Linked DNA regions of Homo sapiens. The protein of the gene in region 2 purifies or fractionates together with the protein of the main gene of each other region. This does not show direct contact. Each region holds a gene or a part of one and is shown on either strand. Other genes may lie near its edges. The genes, in order: HNRNPA3, HNRNPH2, NUDT16L1 and PLOD2.

Region 1 (8,688 bases), on a different chromosome or scaffold from region 2:
TATGCCCATTAATAGTGTGGTATTTCTGAACTAAATTTTTTTTCAATCAAACAAAACAAAAAGTTATTTTATGTTTGGAAAAGCACATATATGAGATACCCTCTGTCATTATGTAACCCATTAAGACATAATCAGGTAGTGACTCTGGTAATGAAGGAGCATTCTGAGATGTTTATGTTTATTTCTTGATCTGGATACTGATTACACAGGCAGACACTATGAAAATTGACTATACACTATAAATGCCATTACACGCAACAGAAAATTACAATTTAGCAAATTTAGTTCAAAACAGAAAAACCAGTTCTACTTTCTCATTCAAGTTACCATAAATTGCTACTTACCAACAATTTTATCAACTGTATCATGATCATCAAAAGTTACAAAAGCAAATCCTCTCTTTTTTCCACTCTGCCTGTCTTCCATAACTTCTATGGTTTCAATCTTGCCATACTTTTCAAAGTAGTCTCTCAAATTATATTCTTCTGTATCTTCTTTAATACCACCAACAAAAATTTTCTTCACTGTTAGATGGGCACCAGGCTTTACAGAATCCTACAAATAAAGTAATATATTAAGTCAAGAAACAAACTTTCACAACAATTTCACATATTACACAATGTATTATTAAAATACCTCTCTAGAAACAGCTCTCTTTGGTTCCACTACACGCCCATCAACCTTGTGTGGTCGAGCACACATTGCTGCATCCACCTCTTCAACACAAGAATAAGTCACAAAACCAAAGCCCCTGGAACGTTTTGTTTGGGGGTCTCTCATTACCTACAAAATAAAAAGTTTTATAACGTTGAAAACACCTCCACCGGTTCTCTACACCCCTTAGAACCCTTCTGTTCTCTTAGTAACTTACCACACAATCTGTGAGTGTGCCCCATTTCTCAAAATGTTCTCGTAAACTATCATCTGTAGTTTCAAAGCTCAGACCACCAATAAACAGTTTTCTCAACTGCTCTGGTTCCTTTGGATCATGGCCCTGAGAGAAAGAACCAATACTCTTAAGTTACCTTACAGTAGATGAATTAAGATGCACGAAGAGCCTTTAATGTACGGTAAGTAATAAAATCAACATCAAATTCCTGTGACAGTTAACACTTTGTCCAGTTAAAACTTTGACCAGACACCGGCGCGATGTCTCATGCCTGTAATCCCAACACTTTGGGAGGCCGAGGCAGATGGATTACCTGAGGTCAGGAGTTCGAGACCAGCCTGGCCAACACGGCGAAACCCCATCTCTACTAAAAACACAAAAATTAGCTGGGCGTGGTGGCGGGCGTCTGTAATCCCAGCTACTCGAGAAAGGAAAATCGCTTAAACCCAGGAGGCGGAGGTTGCGGTGAGCCAAGATCATGTCATTACACTCCAGCCTGGGCCATAGGAGCGAAAACTCCGTCTCAAAAAAACAAAACAACAAAAACTTTGACCAGAAATAAGACTTCAACTGTTAAAGGGGCTAACTTATGTCAAGGAAACCTATAACCAGCCTTTCAAATGCCAGCATCACTTCAACTAAATTGAAATCCAAGACAATTCCAGAATCAAAAAATCGCTTCATTTTTTAAAAGCTACAACTGTCTGAGAACCTTTACTTTAGAAGTTGCTAGTAAGTCATTTTCTAAGGCACTAAACTGTTGGAGAAGCAGTGTTGCATCTATCCCATTTCAACTCTTCTCAGTCTACAACCCAACATGCATTTAATTTTTTTGTTTGTTTTGTTTTTGAGACTGAGTCTCGCTCTGTCGCCCAGGCTAGAGTGCAGTGGCGCGATCTCGGCTCACTGCAACCTCCGCCTCCCGGGTTCACGCCATTTTCCTGCCTCAGCCTCCCGAGTAGCTGGGACTACGGGCGCCCGCCACCGCGCCCAGCTAACTTTTTGTATTTTTAGTAGAGACGGGGTTTCACCGTGTTAGCCAGAATGGTCTCGATCTCCTGACCTCGTGATCCGCCCGCCTCGGCCTCCCAAAGTGCTAGAATTACAGGCGTGAGCCACAGCGCCCGGCCCATACATTTAAACTCAAAACTGTGATGAAGAACAATCTAAAAGTTCTGAATGTCAAACTTACAGAAACTCACTGCTTTCAAGCAAATTAATTTAAAACAGGCATTCCTAAGCCAAACCAGCATTTCCCAAAAAAACTGAGGAAAAAAAAAAGCCGATCAAATAGCTTTCTATAACCCATGTTTGTTATATGCTGCAAAAATCTGCAATTTACAACTCAATTTTAAGAGTCACAACTAACTGGCAAGTTGGACTTACATTAGGAATGGTATGTATTGTCTGACTATAAGAACGGAGTACAGCAAAACAAAAATTGAGATTTTTAAGAATTAAGATGTCTTGAAATTGTTTTATACTTTAGTCAAGACTTTTTAACACATTGCATGAACTGTCATTTAATGCATGCATTAAGGTTTCCTTCACCCGAAGTTCTTAAATAAGGGGCTCACATTTACATTCTAATGTCTTCCTGTGTCTCCTAGAGGTAGAGATGTTAAACCGTTTAATGTGAAGAGATTGTCACATGCTAGAAAAAAACGTTAATAGCCTAAAGCATTAATTCATGTAATCTCATCTTTTCAAGTCTTGGATAAATGTATTCGATTGACAATAACGAAATCGACAAAAATATTTAGGATCCACATTAAATGTACTGCAAAAACGTGAAAATTTCAACTCTGGTTGCAGTCCTCTAAATAAAATTCCAGGAAACTACAACCAGAGCCGACTCAAAGAATGGGAAAACATGAAGATAAAAAACATTTCTAAATTCTTCCTTAACATACTATACTCAAATTCTTCTCCACCCACCCTCCTCAGCGGCCGGAGCCGGGAAGGAGCTGGCTGGGTTGTTTTTCACATCTACACTCAAATTCTCAAAAATTAAGTCCTTCGCCCACATGGCGGTTTAAGAAGTGTAATGTAAGTACTTTAGCAAAAATATATCAGGAAGTATTTTAAAGCAGCAAAGTTTTTAACAATCTCGTATTTCCAACAGGATGCTGCGAAAAAAAGAAAAGGCCAATTATCGACTTCTCGCGGAGAGGACCCGTAAAAGGCCTAGAAAAGCGTCGGCAGAACTTCAGCGAAAGCACTACCTCCCCATGCTTCGAGGCCATTTGCGGCTTTTTCTGCCGGGCCGCCTCCGCCCTCTTCCCTCCAATCCCAGGCTCGCTTTCCCGGCGGCAGAGCGAGGCGGCGGCCATTGCGGGCCAATGCGCCATTTCGTAACGCGGCGGCGGATCAATGTCAATGTGGCCGCCGCCCGCTTGCTCGCTCGCCCGGATGTGCCTGCTCGTCCCCTCCCCTCCCCCACCACCTCCTCCCAACCGCTCCCGCCGGGGCCCGCCATGCCGCCCTCGGCCTCGCTTCGGAGGCCGCGCAGCCGGCAGGCCGGCTTCCCTCCCGAGGCCTCCCCGACCAAGCCGCGCCTCCAAGGGGCCGCCTGTGCAGCCGAAGGTGAAGGCGAGGCGGGCGAGGGGCCCCAAGGAGGTCTCCAACTCTCGCTCCCCTCCCCCTCCCACAGCCTGTCTCAACGCAAGAGCGCGGGACGGCCGACCCGGTCCACCCGGCCTCCCCGCTCCCACCGAACCAGGCCCCCAACGCCGGCCATTCCCCACCAACCCCCCGCTCTCCCCCTAATACCTCCTCCCCCCGGCGGCGACGGCGACGGCCGGAGTCGGGCTGGGGGCGACCGGGCGGCGGTTTTACCTCCATTTTGAGACCGGACTCGCCTCTTCCAACTCGAGTTCAATATGGGACCGAGAGGAAGAGGCGGGGCCAGTCGTCACGTGACGCGTTTTCCGCGCGCCGCCAGTCTGTTGGGGGAGGAGCGAATTGGGAAGGGGGCGGAGCCAAGCGGGCGCGAAGAGGGACTGGACCAGCGGGTTGGCGGGCGGAGGGCGGAGGCGCGGCGTGCCGCGGGAGCGCGCGCGCCTCGCCAGCTTTCAGGGGAAGAGGGCCTTTGCCGCCGTTCGCGTCAGGGCGAGTTCCGGGACGTCAGTGCGGTCTCCGCCAATGGTGAGCGTCCACGTAGAGGGAACGCCTTGTGATCGCGCGTCACCAGAGAGAAAGGCCTTTCCCTTTCTTCTCGCGCTTGTCCCTCATTCCCCACGCAGGCCTCTAGTTCTCCATTTCAGAATTCATTCTATTCCTGTGCCCGAAATAAAACCCACGTTTTTCTTGCTTGTAATTTAAAGGTTGCAAGAAAAACTCCTCGGCCCCTCGGACCATCTTTCCTGTTTCCAAATGCCGGGGACCAGTGTCTGTGACTGCGCCGCCTGCCTGAGGGCATGTACTGAAAAGCCCTGCGACTCCAACATGTGGGACTCACAAGCACCTTGGACAGGCCTCAAAACGCGGCTGACATACAGAATTTTTACCATTAACGACCTGAGGCAGGACTGGTGGAGGTCAGTTCATTAGTTACTGATCTCAAGAAACAAGTCAGGACTATTTTCTAATGTGCTTCTTTCAAGTTAGTGTGGAAAGAGCTGATGCATCTGTTGTAGCTGACGGAATTTAAGGAACTGAATAATTGACAAGATTTCCAGAAAAGCAGGGTCGCCAGATAATGCTACCTGTTTGCGAATGATTGTTACCGTAATGCTCTAGAGAGCTAATCCTTTCTCGGCCTAGTCAGATGATTTTAAATCATTTGATTTTACAGAGCTTTAGTTTCAGTTTTTTAAATGAAAATGGGGATGGGATTAGGTCATCTTCTAACACCCACGACAGCCATAAATTGATAATCTATGGATCCATATTTAAAGTTACTGATAAAAATAACCACAATTGACCAGCCTCCCTTCCCTGTTAGGAAATGCTTTATATTTTAATTTAGCAACCCATGTGACCAACCCTTTTAGAATTGAACTGGCTCTCCCTAGGAAAGGTTAGAAATCTAATCAGTTATAGTAAGTTTCTGTTAACAAATGGGGAGTGGTCGACTTGGAGTTTGGAAAAGGGGAGCGTAAAGTCTAAAAGTTTGTTAATTTATCTAGCCGTTGCTCCAGGAGGACCTGTGTTATAGTTTGGAAACATTTACAAAGGGTATTTTTGTGGGGCAGAAAACAGTTAGCAGTCCTTAATGTAATTTGGTTGAAATAACCGTTCAAACCAGACTCCTCCTGTTGCTTTGATTCCTTTTTCGCAAACTTTCTTATGTTCTACGTATCCAGGTGCTCCTGATGGCCAGCAATAGACTTGAGACATTGGAAGAATGTATAGCCTTAGCGTCTATTTAGTGTTAAGATTTTGTAAGTCTAATTACTGTGAAATAGTCCTGGTAACTTTATCGATTCTGGATACAAAGAAAAATGCAAAGTGAAAGACCTTTGGAAATTGCTATTCACACCAGAGTACTCTATGAGACATTACATAGGTGATCAAGAAGAGTGATCACCTGGCTGCACTTTAGGGTATGTTTGTCCAGGTTTTTCTAATAAGTTAATTCTAATCAATAACTTTTGTTCTAATTAGTAACTTTTGTATAAATGTTAATGTTAAATCGCGAAACAATGTGGGATGGGATACTAAGTTCTCTCCAGGAACATGAAATGTCAGCCCATTTATTCACATCTTTTTGTCCTCCCTATTGTATTGGTCCAGATTTGTTGTTCATCCTGACTGTATGCTGTTTTTAGACATTAGTTATTTTTTATGCTTTTGTCTAAACAAGCTCTGGCCGGGCGCCATGGCTCACACCTGTAATCCCAGGCCTTTGGGAGGCCGAGGTAGGCAGGTCACCTGAGGTGGAGAGTTTGAGACCAGCTTGACCAACACGGTTAAACCCTGTCTCTACTTTTAAAAAAAATACAAAAATTAGCCGGGCATGGAGGCACACGTCAGTAATCCCAGCTGCTTGGGAGGCTGTGGCACGAGAATCACTTGAACTCAAGAGGCGGAGGTTGCAGTGAGCTGAAATTGCCCCACTGCACTCCAGTCTGGGTGACAGAGCGAGATTCCGCCTCAAAAAAAAAAAAAAAAAAAAAAAAGGCCGGGCGCGGTGGCTCACGCCTGTAATCCCAGCACTTTGGGAGGCCGAGGCGGGCGGATCACGAGGTCAGGAGATCGAGACCATCCTGGCTAACATGGTGAAACCCCGTCTCTACTAAGAATACAAAAAAAAAAAAAAATTAGCCGGGCGTGATGGCGGGCGCCTGTAGTCCCAGCTGCTGGGAAGGCTGAAGCAGGAGAATGGCGTGAACCCGGGAGGCGGAGCTTGCAGTGAGCCGAGATCACGCTGCTGGCTGGGCGCAGTGGTTCAAGCCTGTAATCCCAGTACTTTGGACGGCCAAGGCGGGCGGATCACCTGAGGTCAAGAGTTCGAGACCAGCCTGGCCAACATGGTGAAACCCTGTCTCTACTCAAAATACAAAATTGGTCGGGTGTGGTGGTGGGTGCCTGTAGTCCCAGCTACTCAGGAGGCTGAGGCTGGAGAATCGCTTGAACCTGGGAAGCGGAGGTTGCAGTGAGCTGAGATCGTGCCATTGCACTCCAGCCTGGGTGACAGAGCGAGACTCCATCTCAAAAAATAAATAAATAAATAAACTTAAGGTCCAGTTATGTCTCAGGTACAAAAACCACTTTTCCAGTCCTTGACCCTGTAGGGCACAGACTTGAACCTTGGCTATGGTCTGCACTTGCAGCCCTGACTCTTTGATATGAGAAAGGGAGTGTATGGGATGGGAGGAGGGAATGAGGGTCCTAGGGTGAGATGGGTGGCAGACAAACTTTATAATCTATATCAGGCCCTCTCCTTTATATCATGACATACAGAAAATAATCATTTTTGTACAGCATAGTAGGGTAAACTAGAAGATATTTGGAGGCATCTAAGTGGTGGTAATGTTTTAAGCATCTGATTTTGATAAAATACAAAGTATTAGGAATGATATTAAATATTGAATTTGCATAAAACTTTCAAATTAAAATTTTCCGTGTTTTTTAGTGATCAACTTGAACTTGTTCCTGTGAATACATTTTGATATTAGGTTTTATGGTTGAAGTGGCTTTATGCAGTTTCTGATCTAGACTTTTTTTTTCTTGAGACAGAGTCTCACTCTGTCACCCGGGCTAGAGTGCAGTGGCATGATCTCGGCTCACTGCAACCTACCACTCCTGGGTTCAAACAATTCTCATGCCTCAGCCACCCAAGTAGCTGGGATTACAGGCCCATGCTACCATGCCCGGCTAATTTTGTTTTTGTTTTTGTTTTGAGACAGAGTCTCTTGCTCTGTCGCCCACGCTGGAGTGCAGTGGCGTGATCTCTGCTCACTGCAACCCCTGCCTCCTGAGTTCAAGCTATTCTCCTGCCTTAGCCTCTCAAGTAGTAAGGACTACAGGCGTGCATCACCACGCCTGGCTAATTTTTGTATTTTTAGTGGAGACAGGGTTTCACCATGTTGGCTGGGTTAGTCTGGAATTCCTGATCTTAAGAGATCCGCCCGCCTTGGCCTCCCAAGGTGCTGGGATTATAGGCGTGAGCCACTGTGCCTGGCTGGAAGAAGGTAACTCATTTTGTTTGTTTTTGAGACAGAGTCTCGCTCTGTCACCAGGCTGGAGTGCAGTGGCACAATCTCGGCTCACTGCAACCTCCGCCTCCCGGGTTCAAGTGATTCTCCTGCCTTAGCCTCTCAAGTAGCTGGGACTACAGGCGCTCACCACCACACCTGGCTAATTTTTTGTATTTTTAGTAGAGACGGGGTTTCACCACGTCAGCCAGGATGGTCTCCATCTCTTGACCTTGTGATCCACCCGCCTCGGCCTCCCAAAGTGCTGGGATTACAGGCATGAGGGAAGAAGGTAACCCTTAAAAGGGAGGAATTGTAATAAACTATAAGCTTTGTTATGTGCCATTATATTCAGAATATACCAAAGCTTTATTTTCTAAAATCTTGATTTTTAAATAAGGAGTTTATAAAGTAAAACACACACAAAAAGTCTTTCCCCACAAAATCCTATTACATAGATTTGACCATGATCAACAACTTATTACATATCCTCTCACATTTTCTTGTTGGCCTAATCAATGCTTATATATATGAAACAAACATATTTGTTTTATTTTTACCAATGTATGTCTAACTATCCAGATTGATTTGAAATTTCCTTTCTCTTCCACTTAACAAAGTTATTTACCAAACTCTTACTATGTGCCAGGCAATGCTAGGTGCTGGAAATTCATCATAGTCACTCACATTATTGAATACTACTGTATACCTTGTAATGGGCCACGTACATTATGTTCCTGATTTCATTCCCTTAATAAACTTAGGAGGGTAAATTCTCCCTAATCTGGGATGTAGGAAAGTTGAATACATTGACTAAAATTATATAGGCCCTGCAAGTAAAGTGCTGAATTAGAATGTCATATAATCACTGTATTTACATTTTAATATTCTTGAAGGTAACAACCTTTTCTTTAAAAATCTATCATACATTTGTGTTGTTCACTATGTTTCTTATGTTTCCAGAGACCACTACAGTGATTGGCTCTGTAGTAGGCAATTCACTTATTTATGGAATATTCAACATTAGATATATGAATCATGGATGACATATTTTGGGTCCCCTTCAGTGCCCTGTTGGACCTTGATATGGTTTGGCTCTTTGTTTCCATCCAAATCTCACCTTGAATTGTAATCCCTGTAATCCCCACATGTCAAGGA
Region 2 (4,510 bases):
TGGACTTTAACAGAAAATTTAAACTACTTGTTATGGGAACAAAGGGGAGGCAATCAGGGATCATAAAGGAAGCTGCTCCTTAAAGTTGCTGTTTGGGGAACTGTGATGGGTCTCAAAACGTGGTCTTGAGACCAGCAGCATCAGCACATTCTCAAGCAACATCCCAAAACTACTGAATTGGAAACTCTAGGGATGGGGCCTAGAAATGAATGTTTAAACAACCCCTGCAGATGATTCTGATGCACATGAATGTTTGAGAACCGCTGGTTTAAGATAAGCTTTAGATGCCCTAAAATACACCTGAGAGTGTTTATAGAGAATCTACTAATGAATTCATGGAGGAGACAATTTATTTCCATAACATAAACCTGCTTCTTTTTTATGTTTTGTTTTTAACACATAATTGTAAGCCTACTTCTTTTTAAACATACAAACGTGCCTTCTAGTTTGTGGTGAAATAAAAAGGATTATTTATTTGCTTTCACTTCTTTGGATTTTAGAGAATACTATCTTGGTAAGTACAGTCTCCAAAAGTAGCTCAATAGTCCTGTAGACATGGTAAGTTTTTTTTAAAAAAGAATGTACAACTTTAATATTAATCAAAAAAATACAAATTAAAATAGCAATGAGATATCATTTCTCAACTAAAAAACTGGCAAAGTTCAAAAAGAATAATGTGCATCAATAAGGAGGGTATAAGGGGGAAAATAAAACACACACTCCAAGTAGAAAGATAAAGTACCAGAATCTTTCTGGTAACACAAATCAGAAGCCTTAAAAATGAGTATATCTTTGACTCAGCAATCCCATTTCTAGGGATATATCTTAGAAATAATTAATGATATATGCAACAATGAACATATAAAGATGCTAAATATCATTTATAATTTTAAAATTAAAAATCTTAACTTTGAGGGAATTGTAAAGTCAATCAGTGTGCCCATATGACAGAACATAATAAAAATCAATCAGTTCAAGATTTTTTCCAGTTTTTAAAAGGAAGATTTATTTAACAAGTTTCACTTAGTACAATACATCTAAATGGAAATCACAATACAAGGAAAGATTTAAACCAAAGCCTCAGATTTTCATACAAACGACACGACCAAACTTCTAAAGTATTGGTATTACATCTTAAAATTGTCCCGTATCCTTAAAAAAAAAAAAAGTGTACACTCACGTGCCTTACAGGATATTAAACCAAAAAGCTAGAATTAACAAACATGCCAAATGTTTTCACTTTGAATCGTAGACACAGCTCCTATATTTGAGTTTTACAGAAAGGCATGTTTCTCAACATGCATCCGAAGTTTTCAATGTATTTGTGGTATAAGAGCAACATTTAACATAAGTGAAACTGCATTAACCTAAATACGCTTACTGCTTAGGTACACTCCTACAACATAACTAACTTGAGGAAAGCTAAAAATTGTTTTAACAGTTATGGTCAATACTGAACTTTGTTATTATGTCCTAGATGAATGTTTCAGTGTTCAAAATTACTGAGCTTGAAGTTTTAAAATAATCTCAACTTCCACTTTACAGTAAGCATGAATCACAAGCCTGTAATGCAAAACTGTTAAACTTAACTCGTTTTCTTAAAAAAGGAGAAAGAAAGATAAAGAAAGAGAAGCTGACCAAGAGTGATCAGAATCAATTATATTTCCCATTTACCAATCATACTGGATATACTAAACATCCCTCCCATTCTATTCAACTCCCACAAATGTACAGCTTTTATATCTGGAGTAGCTATTTAGTGCTCCTTCTCTACCTAAGCAAGGTTTGACTGATAGTCACTGGAGTTTTCCTGCAGAACTTGGTCATATCCACTCATACTGCTCTGACCACCATAACCACCTCCATAACCACCACTCAGCTGCTGGCTAGCAGGACCTCCATAACTAGACTGGTTGGATAAGCCCATCCCTCCCATCATTTGGCTACCATAAGCGCCACCACTTGCCCCTGCTGTAGAATTCAAAAAAAGTTCTACATAGCTGTGATCGTAAGCACCCCCACTTGTTCCTGCAGTAGAATTTAAGAAGAGCTCCACATATCTGTGTTGCATATTAGCTTTGTCTTTTGCCATAGCTGCCACAGCATCTTCATGAGTAGCAAATTCAACATCTGCCTCACCGGTAACTCTGCCATCGGGTCCAATTTCAATATGTACTCTCATGGGATTAAGAGGTGAGAAGAAATTATAAATATCATTCTCAGTGGCTCTGTAAGGTAACCCCCTCATGTGTACACAGTGCCCTGTGGTGCTCTGGAAACTGGACCCACCATCTCCGTATCTATGATCAGACATTCCTGAAAAACAGTAATTGAGGTCTCTTCCAAATCTATCAGACCCAAAGCCATATCCATCATTATAGCCACCATAGTCATCATAGCCTCCATACCCTCCACCATAGGCACCACGCCTCATCCTTTCAAACCCAGCTCCTCTGCCAATGCTATTATACCCTCTGCCAGCCCCCGGCCTATCATAGGGACCTGGCCGCTGCATAGCCATGAGCTTTCGAGGGGGATCATAGTGGGTTCGAACTTCAGCTCGGCTACTCTTGAAGATCTCAATGTACCTGTGCCCTATTCTTTCCTTGTGTTTCTTTAAGGCCTTCTCAGCTATCTCCTGTGAAGCAAACTGCACAAAGGCTTCCCCTGTGCTTCGCCCCTGAAAGTCCACTGGCAGTGTCATCCCATTTGGCACAATTTCCAACCCTGAAAAGAACTGAACAATCTCTTCCTTGCTACAGCCAAATGGGAGTCCTCTAAGCCGGACGAAGCCATCGTTGGCAGTATCAGGGCTATTCGGACCTGTATGCTTCAACACCCAATCCATTTCAACACTGTTAGACTTGAATACTTCAACGTATCTGTGTCCCATGGTTTCTCTGTCCTTCTTCAAAGCCAATTTCACTTCCTCTTCAGATTCAAGTTCAACAAATGCTTCACCACTTGGTCTGCCTTCTCTGGTGTAGATGAAACGAATACCTGATGTGCCATTTTGGATCTTGCAATCAGAGAAGAAGCGCATCACTTCATCGGCTGAGCAGGACCAGGGTAGGCCCCTGACCTTCACCACGAACCCCTCCCTGCCTTCCGTGCTCAGCATCATGGTGATTGTTGGGCTCTTGGTGGCAAGTTTGGCTCAATGCAATTTTGGTGTAGCTGAAAAAAAAAAAAAGAAGACTACTGTCATGGAAAAATGCTCGTGATATAGTAAGAGAAAAAAGCAAACTATTAATAGAAAATTCAATTATGCTGACAGCTTTTCTGTAAGACGTCTGTATAAACAGAGAGTTCACCAAATTTTTAACTCATTCATTTTTTAGCAGTTATTTATTCAATGCCTATTACGTGTTAGATACCATTAAAAATTAACAGCAATCGGCCGGGTGCGGTGGCTCACGCCTGTAATCCCAGCACTTTGGGAGGCTGAGGTGGGTGTATCACCTGAGGTCAGCAGTTCGAGACCAGCCTGGTCAACATGGTGAAACCCCGTCTCTACTAAAAATACAAAAAATTGGCTGGGCGTGGTGGCAGGTGCCTGTAATCCCAGCTACTCGGGAGGCTGAGGCAGGAAAATCGCTTTTATGTACCCAGGAGGTGGAGGTGAGCCAAGATCACGCCACTGCACTCCAGCCTCAGCGACCAGAGCAAAACTCCGTCTCAAAAAAAAAAAAAAAAAAAAAAAAAAAATTAACAGCAACAAATCAGTGGGAGATGTCAACAAATAAAAGATGGCTATATCTGAATATATAAACATAAAAAACTTCACTAGATCAAAAGATTAAACAACAATTAAAACACAAACAAAACACAGGTTATGTAAGTTCTTTATATAATATCTTCATTATATAAAAATGTATGCAAATCAATAAAATCAGGGAAATATTTGGGCTCCAGAGATAAATGAAAAAAAGACATTATTGGGAATTCACACATTCATTTTAGAAACATTTTTTAGTTGCCATGTCCAATATTCGGCTCTGGCATACAAGAATCAATAAGCCCAGAATGGGCTTATGGTCCTACAGGAGCACCGAATGTCATTATTAAAGATGTAAATGCAAATATACATTATACTTGCCATGACCCTCTGAGTGGAGTGTAAGCATAGTATCAAAGAGGGACTAGTTGATCAGTTCTATTGGTTGGAGGCCAAATGGTTAAATGAAACAGACTAATCTGCCCAGGGATCCATAAACATTTTTTTTTCTTAATTATGATGAAGCACAAATAGGAGAGGGAAAAGCAAGTGAAAAGACTGGCAAGGCATAGATCAGATCCCAAAGACTTTGATATACAAACACTAAGCGCCTTTTAAGACTTTTAAACCGGGGAGTATGTAGGGTGACTTCACCAAAACTCTTTCAGACAGATCACCCTGGCAACAGCGTGGCACTCAAACAGAAGGGGGTCGACGTGGAACTAGGGAGATTAGTTAGAACTTGTCTCATAAATATATGTTAAAGGAATCGCCTAAGGCAACAGGAGTAAA
Region 3 (8,685 bases), on a different chromosome or scaffold from region 2:
GACCCCTGTCCTGAGCCATTATACCCCTAGATTGAAACAGTCAGCACCTTTCAGACGGCCCCGGCCTGCGCATCGGTGGAAGGTGCCGTGCGAATGTCACGATTCAGGTCAAGCTTCCGGAGCTGGGGAGTGCAGGTGTGATCTAGAACAGGGCTCACAGCCTCGGAAACCTGCTCTCGCCGCGGCCCCCGAAGAAAATAGACGCCCTTCACCGGAGAGTGGGGCCTGGGCCGTGTCTGCTGGGAGCCATGTGTCAGGGCTGGTGGCTGGGTGTCAGGCAGCCCTGAGGCCATGCTGGCCCCGTCCCAGGCTCTGCACCAGCACCATTGCCCAAGCCCCAGGGACGCCAGACCCATCTGGGGACAGCGCCCGGCGGCGTCGTGCAGGCCACAGTCTGGGCATTGGGGCTCTGTGGGAGGCTCCTCTCTTTGCCTTGCAGTAGCCATCCGGGGGCTACTCTGAGCACGGGCTTGTTCTCACCCAGGGCCGCTCCCCACCCCTGCACCCTGGGTTGACCGAGTTCCACCCTAACCCAGCCGTAAGAACCTTGGCAGGACAGTGGCTGGCCACATCCCAGGAAACCGGAACCAGGGCAAGGGCAGGAGGCCCAGAGGGCATCCACCGCGGTGCCGTGTCGCGCTCTGACTCGGGGCTGCAGATCTGCTGTGGGTGTCCGGGGATCTGGGATCGTCTGTCCCAAGAGGGACACAGCGTATTTGGCACAGTTAGGGAGTCCCCGGGCCCTTGGTGTGCTCACATCTGAGTGAATGCTGTTGTGGCCACAGGCGGCGGGAGTGGGGGTGCTGGATGGCCCAGCCCCTCTGGGGCTCCAGATCGGTAGGAGCGGGTGGCGTGGCACCAGGCATCCGAGTGTGACCCTCCTCCCTCTGCTCCCACCTGCAGGACGGCCCACCTCCATGGAGACGGCCCACGGCCTCGCCACCACCAGCCCCACCTGGCCTCCACTTGGTGGCCCCAGCCCCGATCCCAGCGCCGCCGAGCTGACCCCACTCTGAGAGCCTGGCCGAGCTGGCAGCATGGAGCCCTCGGCTCCCCAGACTTTGCCGAGGGGCTGCTCCGGACCCCGTTGTGAGCCGGCCTCCTGTCTGCATGCCCCCTGTGGCCACCAGGCTCCGAGGGGCCGTGGTGACTCTTGATCAAAGAGCACAGTGAACTGTCCCTTCTGAGTCTCCCTTTTCTACAGTTGATATATTTGTAACTGGTACAAGATGAAGGACAGCAGCTTTCCATCCCTAGTTCAGAGCCCCCGTTCCCCAGGGTCCTGTGGGCTGAGCGGCTGGGGCTGGGGCTGCCCACGTGTGGCCTCCGCTGGCTCTGCCTGCTCCTGCAACAGTGCGGTCCCTGCCCGGAGAACTCAGGAGGCCTGCAGAAGAGAACTGATTGGTGGTCGAAGCACCATCTTCACAGATGTTCAGGGGCAGTGGGGGGCTCCAGGCACGGTCAATGAAGGAAACAGTGCCTGTCCACCCACCCTGCGTGTCACTGTGGCGGCCTGGCTGTCGCTGCTTTTTGTCCTCTGCCGTGTTTGCGCGGCCTCAGTGCCCTCCCTGGTGCGTCTGCGCTGGGGCCCTCAGTGCTCGGGGCCTTGGGGTGCATGGGTGCCGCCCTGGGCAGCTAGAGTGTCTCAGCCCGGTGCTGGGCCTGGCCGAGGGGCGGAGGCACAGCTGCTTCCAGCAGCCAGCATTCAGTGGCCTTGTCACCAAGCTCCACACCTCCTCCTGGTGCTGGCTTTGGTGACATCACAAGGCCCCTCCAGGTGCAGGGGCTTCTGTTTGGCAGGCCCCTGCCAGGGAGGACCTGGTGGCCTCCTCATTCTCTTTTGCCATTGGAATGTCCCCTTGCAGTTCTCTTCTCTTTTTTTTTTTTTTTGAGATGGAGTTTCACTCTTGCTGCCCAGGCTGGAGTGCAGTGGCTCAATCTCGGGTCACTGCAACCTCCGCCTCCCGGGTTCAAGTGATCGTCCTGCCTTAGGCTCCTGAGTAGCTGGGGATTACAGGTGCCTACCAGCATGCTCGGCTAATTTTTTTGTATTTTTAGTAGAGAAGGGATTTCACCATGTTGGCCGGGCTGGTCTCAAACTCCTAAGGTCATCCACCTGCCTCGGCCTCCCAGAGTGCTGAGATTACAGGCGTGAGCCTCCGCGCCCGGCCCCCTTGCAGTTCTCTCTGATTTGGTTTGTTCTGTCTCAGGCTTCTGTGGCAGGACTGGCCCAGGGAGGAGGAAGCCAGCAGCACACCTGGGGAATGGGGTCCCGGCCGGGAGGCTTGGCCTCTGGGCGACCTCGTCCTGTTTTTTTTGTTTGTTTGTTTGTTTTTTTAAAGGTAAACCTCCTGGGCCGCAGATGGCAAAGGGAGTGCCTGGGCCTGGTGACCCAGGGCTGGATCCACCCCTGCGGAGCCCTGGGCCAGGCAGGTGTCTGCTGCTCACCTGGCTCTGGAGGGCTGCCCTGCAGCTGGGCCTGGGGACAGGTCGGCTGTGGGGCAGCTCAGTACCCTCCCTGAGGCTCACGGTGGCTCCGAGCATGAGGTCCGCCTCCTGGGCGAGACCCAGCAGTGGACAGCATGGTCCTCACACCCAGCTCCCTGCACACCCAGGCCAGCCACCCCTCCCGCTCGTGCACAGGCACGCAGATGCGCTCACACGTACACACACACAAATGCACGCCCACTTGCACATGCTCACGCACATGTTCACACATGCACACTCACGCTCACACATGCTGTCACGCATACACACACGCACATACTCCTGCACATGTTCCCATGCATGTGTGTGCACTCGGACCGAGCATCTCCCACGCACCTCTACCCCACCCCAAGCACCTCTCTCCCCCCATGCACCTCTCCCCAACAACACACACAGCCCCCTGCACCGCCCGCCCCCCGCCCCCACCAAGGCCCCAGCCTCTGGCCATCAGTCCTGGTGCCAGAGCTTTGCGTGAAGTTCGGGCCGCAGAGTGGCCCGCTGGGACTCCCATGTGCTGCCGTCTGATGTGCTCAGATGGGCTCATCGTTGGTTCGTTTTTACTGTATATTTATAGTAATAAAATCATGCAGCAATATCCTGTCTGCTCCTTCCTCCGGGTGCAGCCCTCAGGATTGTGGCTGTTTCCTGACCCGGAGTTTTGCCGCTGGGTGGTTGGCGGTGGCTCCCGCACCGTGGCAGCTCCACGGCCTCTGCCTGGCTTCCCTCTGGGGTCAGGGCAGTGAGCAAGGTGAGGGCTAACGAGAACGGGCAGCTCCCAGCCATCCCTGTCAGGGCTAGTTGTCTGGTTGGAGGGAAGCCACACCCTCCAGATTGGGCTCTCTCGTGAACAGGTGGTTGGGGAGCCCAGGGCCTCCAGGTTTGTGAGTAGTCGCTCCGGTCCCCATCTCTAGTCCTGATCATCTCAAGGCATTTGCTGAGCACCTGCTGTGCGTCAGTGGAGGCAGAAGAGCTGAGGCCCCGGCCCTGGCCCCGGGCGCCTGCCTTCCAGGCAGTGAGATGCCCAGCAGCTAATCAGAATCCTGCCAGGTTTGGTTACTATTAGGAAGAAAGTCAGCATGGTGGTGAGATGAACCCGTACAAGGTCTCATTTAACCGGGTGGCAGGGAGGGCCTCTCTGAGGAGACTTAAACAGCCCTGAGGGCTGAGGAGGAGCTGGCCCTGGAAGAGTGTTCCAGGTGGCAGGAGTGAGCCTGATGTGTCCCCTGGGGACGGAGCCCCTGGCTGGAGTGAAGGGTGCTGGATAGATACTGAAGAGCTTGTAGGGGCTGCTGGAGTGTTTTTATAAGGGGGAGTCAGTTTTAAAAACAGGCTTCCAAGCGGAGAAGCAGTGCTAGCACCCTGCGGCTGGCGTGTGGAGGCCGGACGGTGGGAGCAGGTCTAGCTGCCCATGGTTGTGGGCTCGCAGGCTGGAGCCCGGCCCCAGGCCTCTGCACAGCCCCCGCTCCCCTGCCCAGGGAGTGGCCAGTGCCCCAGGGCACCCACCACACCACTGCCTACCACTCAGGGCCCCAGCTCCTTTGCGTGCAGGTCAAGCTGCCACCATGGCCCTTCTTTGAAGACTGTGAGGGTGGAGGGAAAGCCCGTGTTCTAGCCCATCAGTCCCTGCCCCGAGAAGGCTGCCACCCATGGGCCCTGCAGCTGCTCTGACCTGCCTGGGTCTGGCCCCATCCCAGTGTGGGTAGAGGGGTGCCCAGGGTGTCAGACGGGTGCTTGCATGGGCCAGATGGGCTCCCCCTCTGTACCTCCCAGAAGAGCCAGCGCTTGTATTGATGTCTGGTCTCGGGGAGGGGCTGCAGCAAGGGGAGCCTCTCCTCCTCTGCCCCTGCGTCCCACGGGCCCTGGGCGCTGGCTGGGCTTGGCTGCCTAGGGGTGGGGCCCTCTTTGGGTGAGAGGACCCTTCCCCTCGCTGCCCTCTCGCCTTCTCACATGGTCGCTCACTCTGGAATCTGGACTTCCCCTGCTGCTTGCAGCTGTCCCATGTGACCCCTGACCCACTGGTGGCCACAGGAGGAGAGAGAGGTGCCCTCTCTGGGTCCTTATTCTCCACATCTGAGGCCACCACGGACCTAACAGGTGAGTTTCCAATGCCCACCCTCTCCCTCTCTCTTCTCCTGCCTGCCTCCACTGAAGGCAGCCTTCTCTGTGCCAGCGAGCTCGGCCTCACTGCACGGCTCTCCCGAGGCTGTGCCCCAGCCCTGGGCACCCATGCTGTGAGTGCAGGCAGGGGGGTTCATGTGCTCAGCAAATCCATTCCCCTGGTGGGGAGGAAAGTGGCCCTGGGCCCTGCTGCTGGTGAGGTGAGCCTTGCCATCATGGAGTTCAGGGCACCTCGCTCTGCCTTGGGCTGTTTCGGATGCTTCTGAGCCCCAGAGACATCTCCAGTACAAACACAAGGTAAGTGGTAAGTACCTCAGGCCCTTGTGGAATCGGGATTCTGCCTCTGTCATCAACTGCCAGTTGTACTTAGGCAAGTTATGTCCCTCTCTGAGCTCCAAGTTCCTCATCGTAAATTGGGGAAACCCCTCTTCCCCCCACAGTACCTGGCACAGGGTGCCCGGCTTGGAGGATGCTGGAAAGGTCCAGCCCCGGAATTTAAGTCACTTTCTGCCCAGCAAGCTGGGTCCACAGAGCCCCAGAGCTCCCGGTCGTCCGCCCTGACCCAGCGTGGACTCGGGGACTGGGGCACTCAAGCCCTGCCAAGCCCTGCTCCCCGTGCTGTCCTGGATCGAGCCTGCCAGCAGGGTGGCTAGGTCGGGACAGCTGTCGTGCATGGCAGGCGAAGGCCATCTCCCTCCGGGCTTGGGTCCGGTGGCGCTGGCGGAGCAAGGCTCCGGGGCATCTCTGGCTCGTGTGGTCGTGCCAAGGGTGCCATTGCGGATGGACGGGGCCATGCGGGCCGGGTCGGCCTCCTGGGGAGAAACGGGTGGGCGCAAGGGGATCGGCGCCATCGAGGGTGGAGAAACCGCAGGGAATTTCGGCTGTCCGCTTTGGGGCGCCAAGGAAGATGTTCGTCGCCCACAATGTCAACCTTGAGCCACCACGGCACCGACCAGTCGTCTAGGCTCTCCCGTCGGAGGCGGGGCCGCCGCCCAGGGTGTGCGACTATTGGGTGACGGCTGACGCGCACCGCCCTCCTTTGCACACCGCCCGCAGCACCTCTCGACGACGCACCGCGGCGCTGCGAGGGGCTCGGTCCCGGGGCGCGCCGGCGATTGGCGGGGGAACCGGACCCGGGGGCGCGGCCGCCCGCGGATTGGCGAGGCACGGCGGGGGCGGGCTCGCGCATGCTCTTAAGTGGCAGCGGCGGGGACGGGGTCAGTGCCAAGATGTCGACGGCGGCGGTTCCGGAGCTGAAGCAGATCAGCCGGGTGGAGGCGATGCGCCTAGGGCCGGGCTGGAGCCACTCGTGCCACGCCATGCTGTACGCCGCCAACCCTGGGCAGCTCTTCGGCCGCATCCCCATGCGCTTCTCGGTGCTGGTGAGGACGGGCGAGGGCGCGGGCGAGGGTGCCGGCGCGGGCGGGCCCGGGCGGGGGCGTCCGTCGACCCCGCGGCTGTGACCCGCGCTCCCTTGCAGATGCAGATGCGTTTCGACGGGCTGCTGGGCTTCCCCGGGGGCTTCGTGGACCGGCGCTTCTGGTCGCTGGAGGACGGCCTGAACCGGGTGCTGGGCCTGGGCCTGGGCTGCCTGCGCCTCACCGAGGCCGACTACCTGAGCTCGCACCTGACCGAGGGCCCACACCGCGTCGTGGCGCACCTGTACGCGCGGCAGCTGACGCTGGAGCAGCTGCACGCCGTGGAGATCAGCGCGGTGCACTCGCGCGACCACGGCCTGGAGGTGGGGCCGCCGCCCGGGCCCCGCCCCCCGCCCCGGGGTTTGGCTCTGGCCCCGTGGAAGGCACCGATGGGTAACACGTCTCCTGAGGGTCCCCTGGCCGGGCTGGGTCGGGTGTCGCTGTCTCCAGCAATGGGGTGGGGAGAGGGGTCTGGGGCTGGGAGGCCGGGAAAGGAGGGGCGGGGGTGGGGGCCGGCGCTGGGGCTCCCTCAGGGCTGTGTTACATCCGCCTTGCTGCCTGCCATTGCCAATCCTGGGAGTGGGGGAGTGGGATCGGTGGGGAGGAAGGGATGGGGGAGGAGCGGGGATTGCTTGGGGAGTTGGGAAACTTGAGCACAGCGGGGGTTGTAAAACTTGGGAACCTCATGTTGGGCGTGAAGGCTCTTGGGATTTGTACTTTGTGGTCTGGAAGGGCTGGACTGCGGGTGTTCAGGCTTCGTTGGGTGGACGGGGGGAGCATGGGGTGCGGACCCCGGGGTGGGGTGGCCTGGGTACGAGGGGGGGGAGTGCATGGGGTCAGCCTCCACACTTGCTTGGGGAGGAGGGGGCTGCACTGCTCCGAGGGAGCTGGCTGGCTTCTGCCAGGCCCTGCGTGGGTCTCCCATTAAGTCCTTGGCAAAGCTGGCTGCTCATACCCTGGCCTCATAGCTTCCAGGCCCCTCCTGCTGGAGGTGCCATTGTGTGGCAGGCCTGGCCCCAACCCCTACCTCCTGTCTGCGCAGGTGCTGGGCCTCGTGCGGGTCCCGCTGTACACCCAGAAGGACCGAGTCGGAGGCTTCCCCAACTTCCTGAGCAACGCCTTCGTGAGCACGGCTAAGTGCCAGCTCCTCTTTGCCCTCAAGGTGCTCAACATGATGCCCGAGGAGAAGCTGGTTGAGGCCCTGGCTGCAGCCACCGAGAAGCAGAAGAAGGCCCTGGAGAAGTTGCTCCCGGCCTCCTCTTGAGGGCTGCCTGAGCTGGTGGCACCCTCCCCTGGGCCGGAAGACTGGGAATTCCTGCTAAGTGTGGCTTCTAGAGTGTTTGTGTGTACCCCGCTTCTGACTGCCTAGGGCGAGTGGGCATCCTGTCATCATCTCCACTGTCCCAAGCAGTCACTAGGTGGCGGCCGGGCCAGCTGGAACCCAGCCCATCCTCTCAGGCAGAGCAGGGTGGTCCGGGCACACTGGGCCTGCCTCTCCAGCCTCAGGATGCTCTTGTTTATTCTGGGCTCAGACCCTCCTCTTGTACGTCTCATCACAGCTGGTAGAGACCCAGGAGTGCCTGATTGTCCCACAGGGGTGGCGCACAGCTCTGGGACCACTCAGAAGATGGGATGTGTGGGTGGAGGATGCCTTGTCTCGGTCAGCTCATTCCTGCCTCCTTCCTGAGCCAGTTCAGGGCCTGGGGGAGAGCCAGCTTGGGGTAGGAAGTTAATAATACTGTTAATTTGGGTTGTTGTTGGATTTACTTTGCTAGATTTTCTCTTTCACCACGTGTGAACTGTGGGTGAGGTTTCAAAGTAGCTTCACCCCACGTGGCTTGGTTCCCAGGGACAGTCAGGGCCTCGGGGGCCCAGCTATGTACAACGAAGCTGTCGAAGGAGAAGACAATAAAGTCGCTCCGCAGCTGCTCTGTGTGTTTCTCAGCTGCCCTGTGTGTTTGTTTTGGTTCTGGATGGAACCAGCTCAGGCCCCCTGCCCTAGGTGGGGGAGGGAGGAGCTGCCCCAGCCAGGGGCACGTTTGTTCCCCAGTGTTTACTGGGGGCACTCCCAGCATGAATGCTGTGCCCATCAGCCAGGTTGGGGCGTCTGGGCCGAGACCTTCAGGGCAGGCTCCCCTTCCTGATCCTGGTGGCCCTGGCTGCACCTGGGCTGACCTGCTTTGCTTTGCAAACCCACCATTCCCCACTGTCTGCAAGCAGCTCCAGGGGATGGTGTAGAAGTGCAGGCTTACTGTGCAGAAGGACAGCAGCAGAGCCATCCCTCGTGGTCTCCTACAGCCCCACATCTGGAAAGACTCCAGCGGCATCGTCAGAAAATTTGCACAGCCCATGCCTGGCCCGGTGAGGGAGGCAGTGTGCCCAGCTCCATCTCAGAGCTCGGTGTGAGAGCAGCATGTCCCGGGGGAGGCCCTGTGCTACGGCGGGCTGGGGATGTTCTTGGCTCTCAAAGCCTTATCTTGAGTTGTCTGGGCTCCAGGAGCAAAAGACACACCCCTGAACAGCAGAGGACAGGGCAGTCAGGGTTGCTGCATTGGCCAGTGCCTCATGTCATGTGACCAGAACTGAGCCCTTCACTAGCTGTTCTTAAATTTTATTTTCCAAAAAATGGCATTTTCCAGGTGCCCCAGTCCTCATTCCTAAG
Region 4 (8,651 bases), on a different chromosome or scaffold from region 2:
CTATTTTTGTTTGGTTCTTTTTATTTTTAACTTCTTAAAATGTAGTTGGTCTCATATAGGCTTTGTTTGAAAGGACGTTCAGCCTTGAAAAAGTCACCTGGTAAATCATTCCTGTCAAATTACAGCTTAAAGAATTAAAAGGGAAAACTGCTGGGGCCCACGGACTATACTGCAAACCTCTCATATATAAAGGGGAGCTTCAGATTTGTGGCAACTTGATCATCCTAAAATTAGAGAGGTCATCCCCTGACATCTGCAGCAGAGACCTGATTTAGAATGAAGAGTCACAGCACAAAAGTTCTGCTTCATGGTATTCTCTAAGCCCTCATCTCCAGTTTATATCTTATATTCACTGTAGTTTCTACTCCCATCTAAGTTCTGATCTTAAACTTGTGTTTCCCAATGCTATAATCAATGACCTCTCTGAGGCTTCCTCCTATTCCCCAGTCTCTCTTCTGTAATACTTTTCCTATTTATCTGACTTTAACAGTCTCCTTTGCTGATTTCTTTTTTCCTCTTTCCTCAAAAGGGTCCGCCCTCTCTGAGTTTCAGCTCTTGGATGTCTGGTGGTTTTTCTTTGTCCTCTAATTCATTTAACATCCCCCTTCCTCTGTACCTCCAGGGTTATTCCGCGAATTCCCAAAGCTTTACTTCTTATTCACTCCACAAATATTCATTGAATAAATATTCGTTGACTCCTTTTTCTCTCCTACGCCCACATTCAGACATCAAATTTTGTTGACTCTACATTCAAATCTATCTGGAAATTGACCTTCATTTACTGCTACTGACTTGCTTAAAGCCTCCGTCATCTCTCTCCTGGACCACTGCATTAGCTTTCAAGTTGGTCTACAGGTCTACAGACTTTCTGTTTTATTTCTCCACTCACTCTCCCTTATCTTCCTCTAATGTGGCAGCTGTGGACTCTGTGATCCTTTTTAAATCCTACTTCAGATCATGTCACTGCTCTGCTTAGAACCATCCAAATGGCTTTTCAATTCATCCAGGGTAAAGGACAAAGCTGTTACTAGGTTCTACCCTTATCACACTGTCTGTTTATCTGCTTGCCTCCGCCCTGCTTGTTACCTTCTCAGGCTTCATCTCCTACTATTCTTATGCACAGTCACTGAACATTCAATTGCCCTCTTGCTTCCTCACAACACTCCAGGTATTTCTGGTCTCACAGTCCTTGCACTTCCTGTTTCTTCTGCCTGGAACACAGGTCCCCTGTACATCCTGGCCCCCTCTTTTTCTCACCACTTTCAGGTCTTTGCTCAAGAATCGTCTTCTCAGTGGGGCTTTCCCAGGATCCCTTACTAAGGTTTTGGTATACCTCCCCTCCTTATTGGTCCTTCCCAGTTACCTTTCCTGATTTACTTTCTCTCTACCACTTATTACCTTATATGTTTATCTCTGTTTCACCTGAAACTAAAGCACAGTAGATTTTTGTTTTTTCTGTCACTAATAAATTTGTTTTTACCAATATCTATCTAGAACAATGCCTGAGATATAGTAGTCATGGAATATTTTTTGAATGAATCAATGAATAAACAAATGTGCTACTATGGTACTTACTCTTTGATGATGAAAAATAATTGAATCCTGACCTTAACAGACACACTGTCTAATAATAATTCTAAGAAAAGACCCTGTCACAAATGAGAGAGGTTTGCTTCAGAAGTTAGAAATCATGGAACAGGGACATCTAAACCCATCCTGAGGTAGGGTAAGTTACCCCAGTTGGGCTTCCTGTAGGAGGTGGCACTTGAGCTTGACAGACATTAGCCCAATGAAGGAAGGAGGACAGGTTTTGTCATCCTTTTTTTTTTTAGATATAGGGATAACATGAACAAAGGTATGGTTGCTGAGCAAATGCTGCTTCTCTCATTTCTCCTCAAATTTCCTTACCATTTCTGAGCATGTCACCCTGACTTCTTATGATCAAGAGTTACATCATCAGAGTGGCTGCTACCATAGCAGGTTGGGAATGCCTGGGAATTAATGAGTGTCCCTCAGCCCTTAAGTCAATGACTGATAGGTGTTGGGAATATATATCCCAGTTCTCTGACCCATTGACCAGGATATTTTTGAGTGATATATAGTACATCAATTTTGTGGGATTAAGCTCCCATTACCCACTGTGGTTGATTTAATTGGATATTTTCCCTTTCCTGTGTCATTTTAGCTTCACCTATCTGGTTTTCTCAAAACTCTCCACAAACCGCTAGTCACTGAATTTGGGCTCATGCTTGGGCTTCAGAGGAACCCAAATGATTCCTACCTAAACTTTAGAGAATTAAAGTGACAAAGTATTTGGTCTGCTTTAGGAGATAATAAAGCAAACTACGTTGGTTGGGTTTAGTTTGGCATGAAGGAATCTGAATACTAGGTTAGGGAATGTGGATTGTTTCCAAATCTGTTATGAAATCTGTTTGGGGATGAAGCAATCAAAAGGATATCTGAGTATGATTAATCTAGTTGTGGTATATAGTGGTATTACACTGGTGGTAGGGAAAGTCTACAGGAAATGGCATAGGATACACTCAAGAGTGCATTAGTTAGTGAGGTAGCAGTGAGAATGGAAAGGAATAGATGAAGAGAGAACATGAAGGGAAAAAATGACAAGATTTGGAGTCCGGCTCTGTGAGTTGGCGGGTGTGGGGGATGGAAAGAGAGAAGTAAAAATGTCTGAGGCCATATGAGTTAGAGAGCAGTAGTATCAACAGAGATGAGGGAGCCGAGTGGGATCTGGATTTGATGAGTTAAAAGACATATCAGGCCGGGCTTGGTGGCTCACGCCTGTAATCCCAACACTTTGGGAGGCCGAGGCGGGCGGATCACGAGGTCAGGAGATCGAGACCATCCTGGCTAACACGGTGAAACCCCGTTTCGACTAAAAATACAAAAAAAAAAAAAAAAAATTAGCCGGGCCTGGTGGCGAGCGCCTGTAGTCCCAGCTACTCAGGAGGCTGAGGCAGGAGAATGGTGTGAACCCGGGAGGCGGAGGGAGCTTGCAGTGAGGGGATATCGCACCACCGCACTCTAGCCTAGGCAAAAGAGCGAGACTGTCTCAAAAAAAAAAAAAAAAGACATATCGAGTTTTTGCCAATGGAACATCCAAGTAGAAATGTTCAGCAGATGGCTGGAAATGTAAGAAAGCAGGAAGGATTTGGTTTGAGAATTGGGGCTCTTTCAGACTGTTAGAAATGTCTAGGTATTTGAAAATCCCAACACTTGCTTTATACGAGTCTCACAGCACAGATGTTGTGACTCTTAACAGAGAAGGAAGAATGTCAAAATAACCTGAAATTATTAGTGGACTTTTGGAGTTTAAACACACACACACACCTGTGATGCAGAGAAGCCGGTAAGCATTCATGAGGGGAACGGGGGTTTGGGAGGGCAGGAAGCCAGGTTGTAGCTCTCCAAGTTCTTAAAGATACTGGAGAACCAAGGAAGCAAGAAGTCAAGTTCAAGGAGTTTGGCAATTGCAGGTTTGGCTTTCTGGAGACAGATCTGGCCAAAACACCAGCCATTCCTAGCAGAGTCCTTGGACTCAGAGGACTGATGCTGTTTGCTTTGTGCCTAGTTTTATGAAGCTGTACTTGCCACACATGAAAGGCTGTTATTAAGGAATCCATCTTTTAGCTTTTTTTTTCCCCTTCAGACTAAATAAACCTTATTTCATTCTTCTCACAGGTCATAGTTTCCACTTCTTTAATTATTTGTTACTCTTCTCAGAACTTTCTCCAGTTTTCCTCTTCTTTTAAAAAACTGAGACCAAACCTTCAAAACAGAGTAATAACTGGCTTAGTTCTGGGCACAGGAAATGATTCTTTCTAAAATGTCACATCCCAGGCAAGATTTCTTTGCAGGGTTTTCCACCTGTTTTTAATGCTATCAAGATGAAAGCATTAAGTTCATGTTATCTTGATATGTTAATTTTAGACAAAACGTGATCATAATGGAACACATTTTTCCATAATTTTCTGTCTTAATTTCAAAGGCCCAGAGTTATAACGGGTGTTGTCTCGATTCTGTTTTTTTCTAATTTCACGAAAATTTAGGCAGGAGATTCCAGAATGGTAGCAGTTTGGTTCTCTTTCTCCTATAAAATAGCTTATGTCATTAAATGTATGAGGCAAAACTGTCAAGCTTTTTTCTTAATTGTGCTTTTGCTCCCACTCATTCCAACAAGTTAAACCCTTGGCTAGTTAAAATGTGAGAACAGAAAAAAGGGAATTTTCTTAGACATCAGTCAAAAGTGGAAGCAGTGGGGGCCAAGGCTCAGAGATCTCGACCTCTCCGACCACGTCTTTGGGAGTAATTTTCCATGCGGACTGGAGCACGATCTTGTAAGCACAGCCCCGGCATTACACACGTTGGGCTCCGATTCCGCAGGATTTACAAGCCTCATTACTGGAAAGAGTCTAAGGCTCTCTTGGCACAAGCGGCGGAGCAAGAAATGTTCACTGGACAATAAAACTTTCGGTTTACGGAGTAAAATAAAATCACGGCCTTCCTTTTACAGGGTGATGAACCTGCCCCTGAATTAATGAGGGGCGATCCATTTCCATGGCTTAAGAGTCTGGCGAGGTCCCAGTCAGCCAAGATTGCCGCAGATTTGCAGTCACTTCAGACTGGGTGGAGTATCCAAGTCCATAGAAGAGCAAATTCTCACCCTTCGAGGCTGCTGTGGAAGCTACCGGGGCTGGGACAGCAGAGAGGAACCCAGACGGGAACACCGCCCTCCCGCCAGACTCCCGGCGGCTCCTCCTCCCTCTCCCAAACCCACTCCCAAAGCTAAGTGCAGGCTTCCCCGTTCCAGCCAGAAGCGCTGCGTGAGCCTCCACACGTAGCCGCAGGCAGCTCCTTAAATAGCGTCCGCGCTGAGCAAACAGTCCAGACGTGGGGCCCAGGAGGGCGAGCTGAGGCGACCGCACCGGGCGCGCAGCGGCGGCGGGTCAGCCGGCGGCCAATAGCCAGGGCGCGGCCCGCCCCGTCGCCTCCCCTCGGGGAGCCTATAAGGCCTCCGCAGCGCCCCGGGCGCCTGCTGCTCCGTGCCTCCACCGACGACCTCACTCAGCTGCGTTACGCGCCGCTCCGGCTGCCGGCCGCGCGCCTTGCCCGCCGGCTCCCGCCCGCAATCGGCGGCTCAGGGCGGACCCGGGTCTCTGCGTTCTCGCGAGAAGCGCGGCGCTGCGGGGCCGTGGGCGCCTGAGCCCGCGCGGCCCTCGAGGGCCGAATATGGGGGGATGCACGGTGAAGCCTCAGCTGCTGCTCCTGGCGCTCGTCCTCCACCCCTGGAATCCCTGTCTGGGTGCGGACTCGGAGAAGCCCTCGAGCATCCCCACAGGTGAGCACCCCGCGGTCCGCCGCTGTCCCGCGAGGCTCGGCCGGCGGGGGGGCAGTTCATTCATCCACCAGCCCTTCCGCGGGGCTGGCCAGGTGAGTAGTGGGGGCCTGTCCCTCCTCTCCAGGACCGCCGGGGTCTTCCCCAGAATTGCGGTCGGGCGGCGCTGGTCCCTGGGGAAGTGTAGGGGCACCCGCCCTCGTTGACTCCTTGGAGTTCTCGGTGAACTCAGCGTGCCCGAATTTCCCTGCAGAACAAGTTGGAGTTTCCTTTTGGACTTGCAGGTCATGGGCACCAACACCTTTCCTGCAGCTCTCCTTTCCCCTCCTTTCCGAGAGTTGGCATGGATTTATCCTTGATGGACGAGGCAGTACTCCTTCTGTGACCTAAACACGGGGCTTAGTGTACTTTCTAATTGATGGTGACACATTCCTTCCAGCACCCCAGGAAGCAGCCGGTAACACCTCCCTCTTGCCAAAAACAACGCTCGCTCGAAAACCTTAGTTGTTTTCAGTAAGGCTGCCTGGCTACCCAGTACCTCCAGGCGGCAGCTTTCTTCCTTTGGGATCTGAAGGGGAAGCTGTGGACACACAGCTGCTCCCCTTACCTACCCTTTTCTTGAGCCCGGTGCTGTCTCTCGTTTTCAGAAGCTGTGTAAAACAAAACGTTTTATATTTAGCCAGATTAAAGAGAGTTTCACCACGTCTGTCTAAACATGCTTTGCTGCCTTTTGTGGCACATGAAAAATCCTTGGAGTTTTCCACATTTGTGCTCTTTGTGCTCAACTCTCTGAAATTAGATCTTGCATTTAAATGACCTTCTAATGTCCTTTTTGTTTTGTTTTGTTTTTTGTTAAGTCATCTTGGCACCATTTTTTCCCCCAAGTTTATAATAGAGTGCTTTTCTACTTGAACTTTTCTTAAGCCTAAGGACAGAAATTTCTATTTCAGAGTTACATTCAGAAAGTGACATTTGGTTTGCAGTCCAGCTAATCCATGTAGCGATAGTTTTGTCTTCATCTTTAAGTGTTTCAGAAAGCGTCAGCAGGCTGAACTGCCTATCTTTCTACAAAACAGTGCTTGCTTTGTTAGCTTGAGAAACTTCAGCATTCAGATGGATTTCTATCAGTTACAGGATGCTTTTCTTTCTGTTAGGTATATGTGACCATTTAAAAATGGATTTCTGAACCCGTGTGATTCCTCTAAATTTGAACTAAACTTTTGCATAATTTAAAAATATTTCTTCTAACATAATATCTGGAAAGTAGAAAGTAAATACTTTCAGCAAATTTGGAAGTAGAGAAATTTAAAAAGGAAAAACAGAACAAAAAGCCTTCCCCAGAAAAATGTCTTTCTTTGTTGAAACACCCAAGGAGACTTTAACTGGGAAATAAAATAACCTCTAAGGACTTTGTAATATTTAGAGAGGCCTCTTTGGCCTTTGTATATTTTATTCCACTTCATTGCCAACACCCCTAACTTTTTAATAGAGGACATCCCTTTGTATCTGCCTTTATATTTATAGTCAAAATCAAATTCCCTTCTCACTCTGGATTTTAAATTTCATGGAACTGGACAGTAAACTTTTAATGGATTGTGATATCAGAGAAAGAGAATTTTAGGTATGAAAGTTTCCTCAGGAAACGACCACATGAAACCCACTGTTTAAATCTGAGGACTGGTCACTTGGTAAGCAGGCATGGAGAATTCGGTTAGGGTCGAAATGTGGGAAAATACTAATTTGTGATAGGTGAAGCCAGCAGTAGTCAGTTTGATTACAAATTTCGGTGTAGGTAGGTGTTCTCATAGGTTATGTGATAAACTAATAAATGTAGAGGTAAACTGCTTGATAAAGTGGGCAGAATCATGGACTGTGGTCTATTTTATTCTTTACAAGTTTCAACTGAAAATTACTAAATAGAAGCTTATTCGTTGACATAAATATCAAGATCTTCTATAGGACCCTAAATTGTCTAGCTTAATAGTTCTTTAAGAAGAGTGCTTATCATCTCTAACCCTGTATATTTGTCAACATGTCCCAGCTAACCAAGAAGAAATGGTTTAAATCACAATTTCTTGGCCCTATTGACATTTTGAGCCAGACACTTCTTTGCTTTGAGGGACTATCCTGTGCATTGATGTTTAGCAGTATCCTTAACCTCTGTGCACTAGATGCCAGTAGTATAACCTTTCTAATCTGAGCACCAAAAAAACAAAAAAGGCCTAATGTCCCCAGAGGGACAAAATTGCCCAGGGTTAAGAATCCCTGGATTAGACTAATCTATTTGTATTTGAGGCAATATGGCATTATAGTGTTACTGGAATGATAACAGCAAATTATTTTTGAAAACAAATATTTATAGTGATTTTCAGTTTACCCACTGTAGTTGGGAATGTGATACACATTCATCAATTTTTGGAGTGTAGTTTTTCCTAGCTCTGGTGCTTTGTTGACCAGAGTTGAGAACATAGATTTTTGTTAAATTTTTGAGAGTTCTGTGTGCTGTATTGATTCCTTTTGGTTGCCACTTTATTCTTAGCATGGAAAGACTAAATAAGATTTTGGCTAAAATAATCATTTTCTCTGAAAATAACGTATAGGAATTGTTACCTGAAAATTATATCCTTATGGGAGCTTTCAGAGGCAGAACCTTCTTAATCAGTGCCAGTAAATCAGGTTCATACCCTGATTTATCTTTCCTGCCCTTTCTGCCTTCTAGATGGGATAAGGAGAAGGTGGATGTATTCCTGCCAAGTCTTTGCCGTCATGTCTCCAGACCTGGATAAAATTTGTGTGTGTTTTCTGAGGCACCTTACTATTCTATGATCCAAACTGGGCAGAAACCAAGTTTTGGGCAAAAACAAAGGAAATGGTTTCAAATGTTTCTGTCAAGACCAGTATTTTTGTACCACATTCATTCATTTATAAACTCTCTAATTTACTGTGGTACATTCAAGGAAAAAAGGAAAGGTTTGTCCCTATCTACTGATGCAAACCAGCAATTTATGGGGTGGAGAGGAAAAGAGCAAGGGCCTGGAGAAACCTCTGGAAGAGAGAGGGTCTTGTCCTCTGTACTTTCTGTATTCTGTGCTTCAGCCACACAGAATGACATATCATCCATAAACAGACTGTGCCTTTTATTTCACATGACAACAGACATATAAAACTACTATAGAGAATGTGAAGACAAGAAATGAAAATTAAATTGAGCTACCCTTTTCTATCCAACACATGGGACAAAGCATCTTAAAATAAACTCTGATTGTACCAAATGTCAGGATGGGAATTGACCGTTGAT

What was found.
Region 1: the proteins of HNRNPH2 (region 2) and HNRNPA3 purify together in Homo sapiens (affinity purification with mass spectrometry; 2 studies listed by BioGRID and IntAct, with this or other methods). This does not show direct contact.
Region 3: the proteins of HNRNPH2 (region 2) and NUDT16L1 purify together in Homo sapiens (co-immunoprecipitation; 2 studies listed by BioGRID and IntAct, with this or other methods). This does not show direct contact.
Region 4: the proteins of HNRNPH2 (region 2) and PLOD2 purify together in Homo sapiens (affinity purification with mass spectrometry; 2 studies listed by BioGRID and IntAct, with this or other methods). This does not show direct contact.

Annotation. Positions count from the first base shown.
Region 1 is NC_000002.12:177,207,845-177,216,532, reverse strand, and holds the start of HNRNPA3 (heterogeneous nuclear ribonucleoprotein A3), read right to left. Parts: upstream 3,740-8,688; 5' UTR 3,734-3,739; coding exon 3,662-3,733; intron 995-3,661; coding exon 872-994; intron 784-871; coding exon 637-783; intron 556-636; coding exon 345-555; intron 31-344; coding exon 1-30. UniProt on the Homo sapiens protein: Plays a role in cytoplasmic trafficking of RNA. Binds to the cis-acting response element, A2RE. May be involved in pre-mRNA splicing.
Region 2 is NC_000023.11:101,410,603-101,415,112, reverse strand, and holds the end of HNRNPH2 (heterogeneous nuclear ribonucleoprotein H2), read right to left. Parts: intron 3,178-4,510; coding exon of another isoform or gene 3,125-3,177; coding exon 1,775-3,124; 3' UTR 980-1,774; downstream 1-979. Other genes in the region: RPL36A-HNRNPH2 protein, read right to left, coding at 3,121-3,177. UniProt on the Homo sapiens protein: This protein is a component of the heterogeneous nuclear ribonucleoprotein (hnRNP) complexes which provide the substrate for the processing events that pre-mRNAs undergo before becoming functional, translatable mRNAs in the cytoplasm. Binds poly(RG).
Region 3 is NC_000016.10:4,687,893-4,696,577, forward strand, and holds NUDT16L1 (tudor-interacting repair regulator protein), read left to right. Parts: upstream 1-5,669; 5' UTR 5,670-5,792; coding exon of another isoform or gene 5,793-5,834; coding exon 5,835-5,987; intron 5,988-6,085; coding exon 6,086-6,346; coding exon of another isoform or gene 6,347-6,676; exon of another isoform or gene 6,677-7,065; coding exon 7,066-7,287; 3' UTR 7,288-7,952; downstream 7,953-8,685. Other genes in the region: E3 ubiquitin-protein ligase MGRN1, read left to right, coding at 904-1,016. UniProt on the Homo sapiens protein: Key regulator of TP53BP1 required to stabilize TP53BP1 and regulate its recruitment to chromatin.
Region 4 is NC_000003.12:146,157,586-146,166,236, reverse strand, and holds the start of PLOD2 (procollagen-lysine,2-oxoglutarate 5-dioxygenase 2 isoform 1 precursor), read left to right. Parts: upstream 1-5,052; 5' UTR 5,053-5,247; coding exon 5,248-5,356; intron 5,357-8,651. UniProt on the Homo sapiens protein: Forms hydroxylysine residues in -Xaa-Lys-Gly- sequences in collagens. These hydroxylysines serve as sites of attachment for carbohydrate units and are essential for the stability of the intermolecular collagen cross-links.